Linked DNA regions of Homo sapiens. The protein of the gene in region 2 purifies or fractionates together with the protein of the main gene of each other region. This does not show direct contact. Each region holds a gene or a part of one and is shown on either strand. Other genes may lie near its edges. The genes, in order: FAF2 and LDAF1.

Region 1 (7,000 bases), on a different chromosome or scaffold from region 2:
TTTTTAAGTAGAGACGGGAGTCTTGCTATGTTGTCCAGGCTGCTCTCAAACTGCTGCCTCAGAGGTTGAGATTACAGTGTTGAGATGAGTTGCCTCAGTGTTGAGATTACAGATGTGAGCCACCACACCTGGCCCCTTAACTCTTTTAAACCTTTTAATATAACAGTGTAAAGGGTTAATCTTGTTCATTTTAATAATGAAGAAACAGGTTCTGAGAGGTCAAATAGCTTTCACAAGTAGTAAGTGGTAGAGATTTAGAAATTTATATCCACAACCATCTTCTGTGTAACTTAATGGAGAAGTCAAGTACACACATGAATAATGGGTATGCGATATATATAGATATATATATATGTGTATATATGTATATTGTATATATACATATATATACGTGTGTGTGTGTATATATATATACATATATATATACACACATATATATATATACATATATATATATACACACATATATATACACATATATATATACACACATATATATATATATATATTTTTTTTTTTTTTTTTTTTTTTTTTTTTGAGACAACATATCTCTGTTGCCCAGGCTGAAGTGCAGTGGCGTGATCATAGTTCATTGCAACCTCAAACTCCTGGGCTCAAGTGATCCTCCCACCTCAGCCTCCTAAGTGGCTAGGACTAGAAGTGCCTGGCTAATTTTTGTCTGTTTGTTTTTGAGACGGAGGCTTGCTCTGTTGCCCTGGCTGGGGTGCAGTGGTGCGATCTCGGCTCACTGCAGCCTCTGCCTCCCAGGTTTAAGCTATTCTCTTGCCTCAGCCTCCTGAGTAGCTGGGATTACAAGTGCCTGCCACCATGCCTGGCTAATTTTTGTATTTTTAGTACAGACAAGGTTTCCCCGTGTTGGCCAGGCTGGTCTCGAACTCCTGACCTCAGGTGATCCACCTGCCTCGGCCTCCCAAAGTGCTCGGATTACAGGCGTGAGCCACCGGACCTGGCCAGCAGGTAACATTTATTAAGTATCTACTATGCCTTAGGCATGGTGTTAATGTATAACTATTATGTTTAATCCTTACAGCAGTTTACAAAGTACCATAGGTGGTATGCATAATGAAGCAGATCTATTGATGTATTTACTCAAGGTGATTAAGCTACTAGGTAGTGGAATTCTAGTGGGTCTAGATCTGGACTTGATGGCTGAGTTCTTACTAATATACCTTGCTACTTTGGAAGAGGAATAGAGTTTCAACATGTGTTGGGCAGAATATTCAAAGCTAAAGAAATAGCTTGCACAAGGTAGGGAGATGGGAAAGTGAAGTGTCTGTGGTGATGAACTGAAGAGTATTGAAAGTGGACAATAAGACTAGAAAGGTAAATTAAAGCCAGATTTTGGAGGCCTTTCAAAGCTGTTCACAATGTTTAAACTTTAATCTGTAGATGAGGGGAGCCATCAAAGGATTTTTCAACTAGGGAGTGACACTAGGTTTCAGGTTTGCTTCATTAGCAGTATGGAGTATGTGTTTGGAATCTCCACAGGGGTCAGTACAGAACAGGATGACACTGCTAGGAGTTGGTTCTCAATATGTTTCTTCATTTGGTATATTGAAATCAGTAAAAGTAAAATATTTTGGAAATCTCAGGTTTCCTGTATTTCAATTTTTTTATGATGTTATTTGGTTAGAACTCCCCAAGGCATTTTATTTCATATCATGTTTCTCAGCCCATTTGATATCTTCCAGGATTTTTCTACAGTTCTCCACTTCTGTTTATTTTGGAACCAGTTGAATATGAATAACTATTGCAGACAATTGTTTTCAGCTATTTCAGATGGGAAAGAATAAGGACATAGGTTTTAAGGAGAGCTAATGCAGGTATGTGGAAGGTTACTTTTATTGGCGTTCATTTTCCCAAATTTCCAAATATAGCAGACTCTCCTAGTGTCTTGGTTTACTGCCTCTAGGTTGCTGTTTGAACAACTGGAGAAGGATGACATGGACAGAGAGAAGGGGGAATTAAAGGAGTTATGCAGGCCAGCAGAGGAAGAAATGATCCCTTTTCTGCTTGCACAGGAGGAAGAAATTTATGACCCTCATCCTTTTAAATGATAGCCTGAACGCTGGGCTGTAGAATCAAATTTATAAGTCATTTTGAAAATCTTTCTTTTGGCTTCACCTGACTATATTACCTAAAGGAAAAAAAAACACATGGTGCTTTTTGTTCATGTATTTAAAACAGAACATACAGTGGTCCATTTGAGGGTTTTTTGCCAGAGAATTTGGCACTGTTGAGAAAACAAGAGCTTTGAAAATCCAGGCAAACATGACTTAACTTTTCAACAGCTTATGGTGAGTTCTGTGATCTTGAACAGGTTCTCACTTCTTTGAACCTCTTTCATTTTCTATAAAATGGAGATACTGGCCGGGCGCAGTGGCTCACACCTGTAATCCAAGCACTTTGGGAGGCCGAGGCTGGCAGATCACGAGGTCAGGAGTTCAAGACCAGCCTAGACAACATGGTGAAACCCCGTCTCTACTAAAAATACAAAAAAATTAGCTGGGCGTCGTGTCAGGTGCCCATAATCCCAGCTACTCGGAAGGCTAAGGCAGGAGAATTGCTTGAACCCAGGAGGCGAAGGTTGCAGTGATCCGAGACCGCACCACTGCACTCCAGCCTGGGCAAGAGCGAGACTCTAAAAAAAAAAAAATTGGAGATACTATTATCTAGTTCACAACATTCTTTTTATTTTTTACTTTAAAAAATCTAGTAGGCTGGGTGCCATAATCTCAGCACTTTGGGAGGCCGAGGCAGGCAGATCACTTGAGGCCAGGAGTTCGAGACCAGCCTGACAAACATGGTGAAACCCCGTATCTACTGAAAATATAAAAATTAGCCAGACATAGTGGCATGCACCTGTAATCCCAGCTACTCGGGAGGGTAAGGCAGGAGAATCACTTGAATTCTGGAGGCGGAGGTTGCAGTGAGCCGAGATCGTGCCACTGCACTCCAAGCCTGGGCAACAGAGTGCGACTCCGTCTCAAAATAAATAAATAAAAATAAAAATACAAAAAAAGTTAGCCCAGTGTGGTGGCACAGGCCTGTAATCCCAGCTACTCAGGAGGCTGAGGCATGGGAATCACTTGAACTCAGGAGGTGGAGGTACCAGTGAGCCAAGATCGTGCCACTGCACTCTAACCTGGGCAACAGAGCCAGATTCTGTCTGAAAAAAAAAAAAAAAAAAAAAAAAAAAAAAAAAATCTAATAATACATGCTTGTTGGAAGTTAGCAACATACAATTGTATTTTAAAAAGTAATCAAATCTTATTTTATTTCCCCATTCTAATTCCAGGTTTGTTGTTTATCTTTGTGTATTTTTGTCTTCTGCATACACAGCTTAATGTGGAAGCTCTCTTAACCTTAACCTTCACTTGACTGATTAATTGGAGCAGATATCCTCCTTTTCCTAAACTCTATTCTGTAATATGTTCAAGCATTTCTGCAAACTCTACTCTGTAATGCACTCAAGTGTCTCACCAGTCAAGTTGTATTCCTGACAAGAGGCAGTTATATTTGCTCCCAAACTAGTGTGTGCTGGTTATGTTTGTCACATGTGTTTAATTAAACACTACATAAACCTGTAAAATACCAGTGCAAAAAGAGTTTTCATCGATACGAAAACTAAATTAAAAGCTTTAAACAGGCTCTGTCTGGGGAAATTGCTAAAAAAAAAAATTGTTGTTTAGTTAGGTGTGGGCAAGTTAACTGTAAATGACTTAGGGAGAAATCATTGAGATACAACATTGTACACTTACTGCTTGGCAAGTGTTTAAGGTTGCACTACACTTAAGGAAATCAAATCAGTATGGGTTATGCTAAAAAGATCCCAGCCTGGGCAACATGGTGAAACCTCATCTCTACTAAAACTACAACAAAAAAATTAGCTGGTCGTAGTGGCGCATGCCTGTGGGCCTGTGATCCCAGCTACTTGGGAGACTGAGGTGGGAGCATCACCTTAGCCTAGGAGGTGAAGGCTGCAGTGGGCTGTGATTGCACCACTGCACTCCAGCCTGGGTGACAGAGTGAGACCCTGTCTCAAAAAAAAAAGTAAAAAATAGCCAGGCACAGTGGTGCACGCCTGTAATCCCAGCACTTTGGGAGGCTGAGGTGGGCAGATCACCTGAGGCCAGGAGTTTGAGACCAGCCTGGCCAACATGGTGAAACCCCATCTCTACTAAAATACAAAAATTAGCCAGATTTGGTGGCGGGTGCCTGTAATCCTAGCTACTCAGGAGGCTGAGGCAGGAGAATTGCTTGAACCTGGGAGGCAGAGGTTGCAGTGAGCCAAGGTCGCACTAGTGCACTCCAGCCTGGGTGACAGAGTGAGACTCCCTCTCAAAAAACTAAAAATAAAAACTAAAGAAGTTCCAAGGAGTGCTAGTGGATTCATTCCCTAAAGAAAACGATAGGCTTTTATCAGAAACTTATGTTCATGTGAGTACTTTATGTTAAAATGAAATATTTACATAAATATTCATTTATGTAAAAATGAAAACATGTAAAATGTTAAAATGAATATTTTTATTACTTTGACTTCAGTTAATTGATTAGTTATGGGTCTCATTCTCATTGGGTAAGAGAACTTCTGTCTTTGTCTTATAGAGATATGATTATATTATACTTAACTCTGCATAGCATAGGTAAGTAGTCATGAAGACTGACTGGGTTTGTTTGATTGAGACAGAGTTTTGCTCTTGTTGCCCAGGCTGCAGTGCAGTGGTGTGATCTCAGCTCACTGCAACCTCCACCTCCTGGGTTCAAGCAATTCTCCTGCCTCAGCCTCCCGAGTAGCTGGGATTACAGGTGTGTGCCACCACACCCGGCTAATTTTTGTATTTTTAGTAGAGATGGGGTTTTGCCATGCTGGCCAGGCTGGTCTTGAATTCCTGACCTGAGGTGATCCGCCTACCTCGGCCTCTCAAAGTGCTGGGATTACAGGCGTGAGCCACCGTGCCCGGCCCAAAATATATTTTTAAAACTTAAAATGAACAACTCAATCAAAAGGTAGGGAAAAGATCAGAACAGACAACTCACCAAAAAAGATATACAGATGGCATGTAAGCATATGAAAAGATGCTCAAATCTTTAAGGATTTGAGGTCCTTAAGGAATTGCAAATTAAAACAGCAATGAAACAGGAACTCTCCTGAGCTCAAGCAGTCCACCCCTTGGCCTCCCAAAGTGCTGGAATTACGGGTGTGAGCCACTGCACCCAGCCTCAACTGGAATTTCTGTTCCACTGGTCTTCCCCTATATATGCCAATATAACACTTAATTATAGAGGCTTATGATATATTTTGATCTGGAGGAACACCCCTGCCTCCACTCTGTTGCTCTTTTTCAGAGTTTTCCTGTTTATTTGCTCCTCTAAAAGAAATTTGAAATCAACTTTTTAAAGTTGAAATTTTATGAAATTTGTAAATGAACTTCAGGGGTTGTAGTTGACATCTTTATGTTGCTGAATCTGTTCAAGAACATAGTTATATCTTGGAAAGGTTTTGACATACTTACTCAGTAGTGTTTGCTGGCCTCCCTTTTTTGGGGTACTTCTTTATTTGACAAGTACAGACACTTATTATCAAGTTGGTTCAAAATGCGTTATTTTTTCAGAGTGGGCTGGGCATCGATATTTATGAACTCCTCTAAGTATTTAAGAGGAATATTTCTGAACCTTGCAAAGTAGTATACATTCTGATTACTCTGAGTAACAGATTACCTTTACAGCAGATAGTCTTTTAGAAGTAGGTCTTTGAGATGGGTATTGATAAAGATTAGTATTTTTTGTTTTGTTTTTTTGAGACGGAGTTTCGCTGTTGTCCCCAGGCTGGAGTGCAATGGCTCAACCTTGGCTCACTACAACCTTTGTCTCCCAGGTTCAAGTGATTCTTCTGCCTCAGCTTCCAGAGTTGCTGGGATTATAGGCGCCCACCACCACTTCTGGCTTATTTTTTTGTATTTTTAGTAGAGACAAGGTTTCACCATGTTGGGCAGGCTGGTCTCGAACTCTTGACCTCAGGTGATCCACCTGCCACAGCCTCCCAAAGTGCTGTGATTACAGGCGTGAGCCACTGTGCCCGGCCATAAACGTTAATTTTGTCATTTTTATTTTGGACCATCTGAGGATTATTTCACATATTCAAGGATTCTAGTTGTCGTTTCTCCAACATTGTATTTTTGCTTAAAATTAGTATCAAAAATGAAATAGTCATAAAACTGATTATTTGATTTGAACTGTTTTCAGGGGTGTGTGTGTGTGTGTGTGTGTTTAATACTACTGTTAGTGAGAGTGCCAGAAGTGATGAATAGCAGAAATCACCGTGAACACTTGGGGGGCCTGTGTGTGGGCCTTGGACTTTTCCACCAAGGAAATTATGAAAACTTTCTCACAGTCCTGGAATAAATTTGAAAGAGAACAATTTTTCATACTAAATACTGGGGAATATTTTTAAATGTGTGTTTGTAAATTCTTATTGGAGTTAAAGTCACAAAAAGTCACAGTCCTTAGTTAACCCTCTTGTCATATGCATTGCCACTGCCTCAGTTTATACTTCATTTCTCCTCTGGACTAAACTTGTATAACTGGTAGCCCACATTTAAAGTCTTCTCAATTCAGCCTTCCTACTTTTTCCAGAATAATATTTCTATTCTCTTTCTCTTCTCTTTTCACTCCTCTTCTCCCTTCTCTTCTCTTCCTTGACAGAGTATCTGTCGCCCAGGCTGGAGTGCAATTGTACAGTCTTGGCTCACTGCAGCCTCCGCCTGCTGGACTCAAGCCATCTTTCCAGCTCCCCTTCTTGCGTAGCTGGGACCACAGGCACGTGCCACCACGCCCAGCTAATTTTTGTATTTTTAGTAGAGATGGGGTTTCGCCATGTTGGCCAGGCTGGTATTGAACTCCTGGCCTTAAGTGATCCACCTGCCTTGGCCTTACAAAGTACTGGGATTACAGGCATGAGCCACCACGTCTGGCCTCA
Region 2 (5,839 bases):
GAAAACTTCAGAAGGGAGACCATTGCATTCTTCATTATTAAAGCTGCAGAACCCAGCTGGGTAGATAGCATAGAGAGATAATATCAGACAGTTGTATGAATGAAGGAAACATCCAATAAACAGTAACTGTTAATATTAATAGTTATATTAATAGTGGGCTGATCTATCGCCTCCCCTGTTTCTTGAATGGCCACCATCCCAGCCCTGTCCCATCTGCATATCCCATCCTCCTAGCCACCATGATTGGTCTGGGGTCGCTCACATGACCCAAGTCTATCCAATCAGAGCCAAACCCAGAATATTTGTATATACTGTTGGAAAAAAGCAGTTTTCTTGCCCAGGATGGAGCTCCTGGGACCTCCGAAAGGGGTGGCGGGCCTGCCTGCAAAAGCAGCTCACACTGAGGAAAGCTATACTGAGAGATGAGGGGTGAGAGATGCTTAATGACACCACCTGAGCCCCTGGAATCAGCAGCACCTCAAGATCTACCCCTTGGCTTTTTGGTTGAGTGAAACTAATCCTTCTCCCTACCACCCCTCTTTTTAAAGTAATGTGGAATTGGGTGTCTATTGCGAGCAACTAAAAAAATCCCTATTACCCAGCACCAGTCATGAAATCGACAGAGGAATAGGCAGGTCTGATGTATGGAGCAGAAGGGAAAAAGAGTAAAGAAAAAAAGCCCACCCAAATAAATATTTAATGAAATGCCACGCAAATAAACCACTCAGTAATTCCACTGGGAAATCCCATAGGAAGTTTTATTTTTACTTACTAGTCCTTTAGCATTTTTATTTTAAGAAATGGCTTAGGCTGGGCACAGTGGCTCACGCCTGTAATCCCAGCACTTTGGGAGGCCAAGGCAGGTGGAGCACCTGAGGTCAGGAGTTTGAGACTAGCCTGACCAACATGGTGAAACCCCATCTGTACTAAAAAAAATACAAAAAAAAACTAGCCGGGCACGGTGGCGGGTGCCTGTAATCCCAGCTACTTGGGAGGCTGAGGCACGAGACTCACTTGAACCTGGGAGTTGGAGGTTGCAGTGAGCCGAGACTGCACCATTGCACTCCAGCCTGGGCAACAAGAGGGAAACTCCGTCACAAAAAAAAAAAAAAAAAAAAAAGAAAGAAATTACTTAAAGGACAAGCTCTTTAGAACAATACAACAGTACCAAGTGCAAATATGTAAAAGATTAACAGTACTTAACAGTACTCAACAGTTACAGTGGAAACTACACCTTTAGACTTTTTTGAAAATACTCTTGGCCACAAAGTTACATTTGGACTCTATTTTCCAACTTGGAGAGGCCAAATGTTGCTGTTCTTTCTGATAAAAAGCAAATACCACAGAAGGGCTTGTTCTGTTTTGGATTTTTTTTTTCATTTTGTTTCACATGAGTGAAAAAATTAACAGCTGCCCTCATTTCTGAAAACAAAAAACTATAAACAATCACTGTTGCTCCCAATGGGACCGTTGGACATAAGCCCTGAGGCTTTGGGGTCAACGGGCTAGACTCTAGAAGCCCAGGACCCCGCCAAGGTCAAGTCTGCATACTTGGGGCAGGGCGAGCTGTTGAACCATCGCATTTCTCTGCTGCTTCTTTACATGGGAACCAACACAAGAACAACACAATCCCTAAATTGGCTGCTGCGGGATCCTACAAGTAAGTGAAAAAGCGAGAGGACACAGCCAAGGAGTGCTTGCCTACCCAGCCCCCTTCTTCTAAGCCATAATCCCAAGGGGTGAGTATGATCCAGCAGTACTTGAAAAGAAGCCCGGCCTCTGAGCAGTCACTCATTCCTGGTAAAGCCCCTCGAATTCTGCAGACTTCATGGCTGGCAGAAAGTCACAACTGGTGTTTTGCTGTGTCAGTGGCCTGTCGGATAACAAGAAGAGATCGTTAGCTCTAGGGCCTCAGTAAAGAGCAACGTTGGAAGTGTGCATAGCTGAATACATGATGTTCTTTTTCCTGATTTTTAGCTGCTTCTTGCAACCACACCAGGCCTATGTCCATTATACAGATGAAGAAACTGAGGGCACAGGAGGTTAAAATGACCAGGTTAGGAGTAGGGTTACGGCCCCTTTTCCATTTTCTAATTTGGATATTTATTATGTTTTTCTTAATTATCTGTGTCCTCACAACAACCCAGTGAGAATGGTAGATTAAGAGTAGCCATTTTGTCTATTTTACCAATGGACAAAAACTGAAATCAGAGAAGTCAAGCAGCCCGTTCAAGACCACACAGCTGAAAACATGGCAGGGCGGGGATTCAGACCATATCTTCTGATTTCAATTAGTTTCTTGACACCTTCCATGGAAAGGAGTTCGGGGGAGGATTGTATTAGTCCGTTCTTATGTTGCTAATAAAGACCTGAGACTGGGTAATTTATAAAGAAAAAGAGGTTTCATGGACTCACAATTCCACATGGCTGGGGAGGCCTCACAATCATGGTGGAAGGCAAAGGAAGATCAGAGGCACTTCTTACATGGCGGCAGGCAAGAGAGCATGTGCAGGGGAAATGCCCTTTATAAAACCATCAGATCTCGTGAGACCTACAATCAGGAGAACAGCAACCAGCGGCCATCTGACAAAGTTCTAGTCAATGAAGTCTTTTGAAGTATAGTGGTGAGAGGTCCTGGGAAATATTTTATTCACATTTTTAAAAGGGTCAGACTCCATTTTTTTCTCCTTTTCTGCTGCCTTGAAGGTAGCTGGTAGATCTGGAGCTGCAGCAGCTATCTTGTGGCCATAAGGTAGGAAACCAATGGGCTAAGGATAGCAACACAGGAAGGCAAAAGGTGCCTGGTATGTTGATACCACACTGGCTGCACCAGCCCTGGGCTGTCTCCAGTTTTTCATTAAGCAATAAAAAAAAGTTCCCTGTGTGTTTAAACTAGTATCTACTTTGGTTTTTTTCATTATTTGCCACCTAAACCATTCCTCCCTGATAACAAAAAACTAAGAAAGAAGCCTTTCCTTTTCTTAGTAAAGATGTAAGGAAGCTAGTTATGCTCAGGCTGGTTTGGAAGATTATGATATGGGGTAGTGAGTTTGGTGGCTCTGCAAATAAACACAGCTGCCCAGGGCCCCTACTTCTCCTGAGCTGCAGGCCCTGGAAGGTCTTGCAGTCTCCATAACCAAGCAGTGTGGTTTTGCCCCTCAGAGGCTAGCTGATCTACATAGGAGGCAGGTCAGTGTATTTGATCTAAATATTGTTTAGTTGGGTTTCATATGTAAGGGAAACTTACAGTTTTGTTTCCTTTTTCTTTTCTTTTTTAAAAATTTAAGCTGTATTATCTTTTATGTTTTAGGGCCAAAATTCCATTAAATCATGAAATAAATTATATAGCTCCTCTTCCCCCCATTCCATGCTTTCGATCATTTAATGAGGGAGTTATCTTTTTTTGAGTTATAAAGAATTCACTAATGCAGGCTGGGTACAGTGGCTTACACCTATAATCCCAGCATCTTGGGAGGCTGAGGTGGGTGGATCACTTGAGCTCAGGAGTTCAAGACCAGCCTGGCCAACATGGTGAAACCCCACCTCTACTAAAAACACAAAAATTAGCCATGCATGGTGGTGCACACCTATAATCCCAGCTACTCGGGAGGCTGAGACAGAAGAACTGCTTGAACCCAGAAGGGAGAGGTTGTGTGAACCAAGATCAAGCCACTGCACTCCAGCCTGGGTGAGAGTGAGACTCGTCTCAAAAAAAAAAAAAAAAAAAAGAATTCGCTAATGCAAGGGTTCTCAGATGAAAACCATGTTCACAATAACATGACCTATTATATGCCTTTTTCACTCACATTCTCTCACAAGGGAACAGTGCAATTTTTCAAAATATATTTGGAAGATCTGCATGACTCAATGAATTGATATTCTCCCATTGACCAATGGGTAAAGTTAGAAAATCATGCATGATAAAGATCAATTTAAAGTGTGACACAGACCTGAAGATTTCAATAAAATAGAGTAGAAAAATTTCACATTTCAGCTAACCTTTAAGAAACTATCACTTACGGAGTTTTGGTGGACTATCATAGAATATCCACAATCGTTTAAAAAAGCTTTGCCTCCCTCTCCCAACCGCATGTTAGTGATGCTAGGTCTTCTTCAAATACTCCAAACAGGACAACATAGCACAACAGAATGAATGCAGCCACACAAACGAGAAGCCGGCTGACAACTGTTAAGGCAGATATGAAAGAGATCTGTAAAATGTAAAATAATACCACTCACAAATTTCATTTTGTTTTGGAAAATATAGTTACTTTTCATTAAAATTTGTTATTTATATCAACAGGTAATATTGTTCCTTTTAAATGAATAGATATTTTTAAAATTTATGCTATGATTTCTCATAGAATAATTATTTCAGAACAAGAAACAATGAGGAAGAAAATTTTTTAAAAAGAAATAATTATTAATATTCTTTTTTTTTTTTTTTCCAGACAGAGTCTAGCTCTGTCACCCAGGCTGGAGTGCAGTGGTACAATCATAGCTCACTGCACCCCCAACCTCCCAGGCTCAGGCCATCCTCCCTCCTCAGCCTCTTGAGTAGCTGGGACCACAAGCATGCACCAGCTAATATTTAATTTGATTTAATGTAATTTATGTTATGTTTATTTTAATTTATTTTATTGTATATAGTTTTATGTCATGTTAGTTATTTATTTTATATTTCAGCTCATTTCATTTGTTTTTTGAGACAGGGTCTTGCTCTGTTGCCCAGGCTGGAGTGCAATGGTGTGATCACAGCTCACTGCAGCCTTGAACTCCTGGGCCCAAATGATCCTCCCATCTCAGCCTCCTGAGTAGCTGGGACTACAGGCACGCACCACCACAGTTGGCTAATTTTTGTATTTTTTGTAGAGATGTGGTCTTGCCATGTTGCCTAGGTTGGTCTTAAACCCCTGGCCTCAAGTGATCTTCCCTCCTTGGCCTCCCAAAGTGCTATTAATACAATTAACCACATAAATAACATCTCTTCAGATGCCTCAATAATTTTTAAGAAGGTAAAATGGGACTTGAGAACAAAAAGCTTAAGAACCTCTGCCCACGTGGAAACAATTGGTTGGCAGCAATAGGGGAAGATAAGGAGATCAAGTACAAATCCTGGATTTGTTTTTCAATTTCTTCATTGATAAGTAGGGAGTCAGATTCTGCTACTTCCTGTGGTATAATCTTTAAGAACTCACCCTGTTACAGCAGCGTTCAGAGGCAGGGAGGAATTTTATTTCAGAAGCATCACCCTCAATATGCAAAATAGGCCAATATTTCTCCTTTTACATCTTTTAAGACTGGGAGTGAGTTAGTGCCTTACGCCTATAATTCCAGTTCATTGAGAGGCCAACGGGGGAGGATTGCTTGAAGCCAGGAGTTTGAGAATGGCCTGGGCAACACAGCAAGACCCCATTTTATAAGTAAAATACAAATGAACAAACAAAAGACTAAGAGTGATCAAAGCGATTTTTGAAAAGGTGATTATGACTCCAGGGTTGATTCAATTAAGCAATCCTATAAGAGCCATCCTTGAGCAATTTTATATTATACCCACTTCACCCTTTATTTTTCAACATAGGAATAATAACAGGATAAACTTTTGGTAAGGAGTTCAAGGGCTGTTTTGTAGAAAAACAAAACTCAGGATATCAGTTCTTATAGAGCAATGGTTGGCCAAATCCAGCAAGCTGCCTGTCTTTGTAAATAAAGTTTTACTGGAACACAGCCATGCCCATGCATTTACTTCCTGGTCTGTGCTGCCTTCATGCTACGGCAACAGAGTTGACTAACTGCAGTAGAGACTATATTATTTACTAAATACTTACTATCTGGCCCT

The links.
Region 1: the proteins of LDAF1 (region 2) and FAF2 purify together in Homo sapiens (affinity purification with mass spectrometry; 3 studies listed by BioGRID and IntAct, with this or other methods). This does not show direct contact.

Annotation. Positions count from the first base shown.
Region 1 is NC_000005.10:176,451,385-176,458,384, forward strand, and holds part of FAF2 (FAS-associated factor 2), read left to right. Parts: intron 1-930; exon of another isoform or gene 931-1,844; intron 1,845-1,933; exon of another isoform or gene 1,934-3,613; intron 3,614-7,000. UniProt on the Homo sapiens protein: Plays an important role in endoplasmic reticulum-associated degradation (ERAD) that mediates ubiquitin-dependent degradation of misfolded endoplasmic reticulum proteins.
Region 2 is NC_000016.10:21,175,509-21,181,347, reverse strand, and holds the end of LDAF1 (lipid droplet assembly factor 1), read right to left. Parts: intron 4,212-5,839; coding exon of another isoform or gene 4,190-4,211; exon of another isoform or gene 4,187-4,189; coding exon of another isoform or gene 4,114-4,186; exon of another isoform or gene 2,552-4,113; coding exon of another isoform or gene 2,536-2,551; exon of another isoform or gene 2,416-2,535; intron 1,874-2,415; coding exon 1,792-1,873; 3' UTR 732-1,791; downstream 1-731. UniProt on the Homo sapiens protein: Plays an important role in the formation of lipid droplets (LD) which are storage organelles at the center of lipid and energy homeostasis. In association with BSCL2/seipin, defines the sites of LD formation in the endoplasmic reticulum.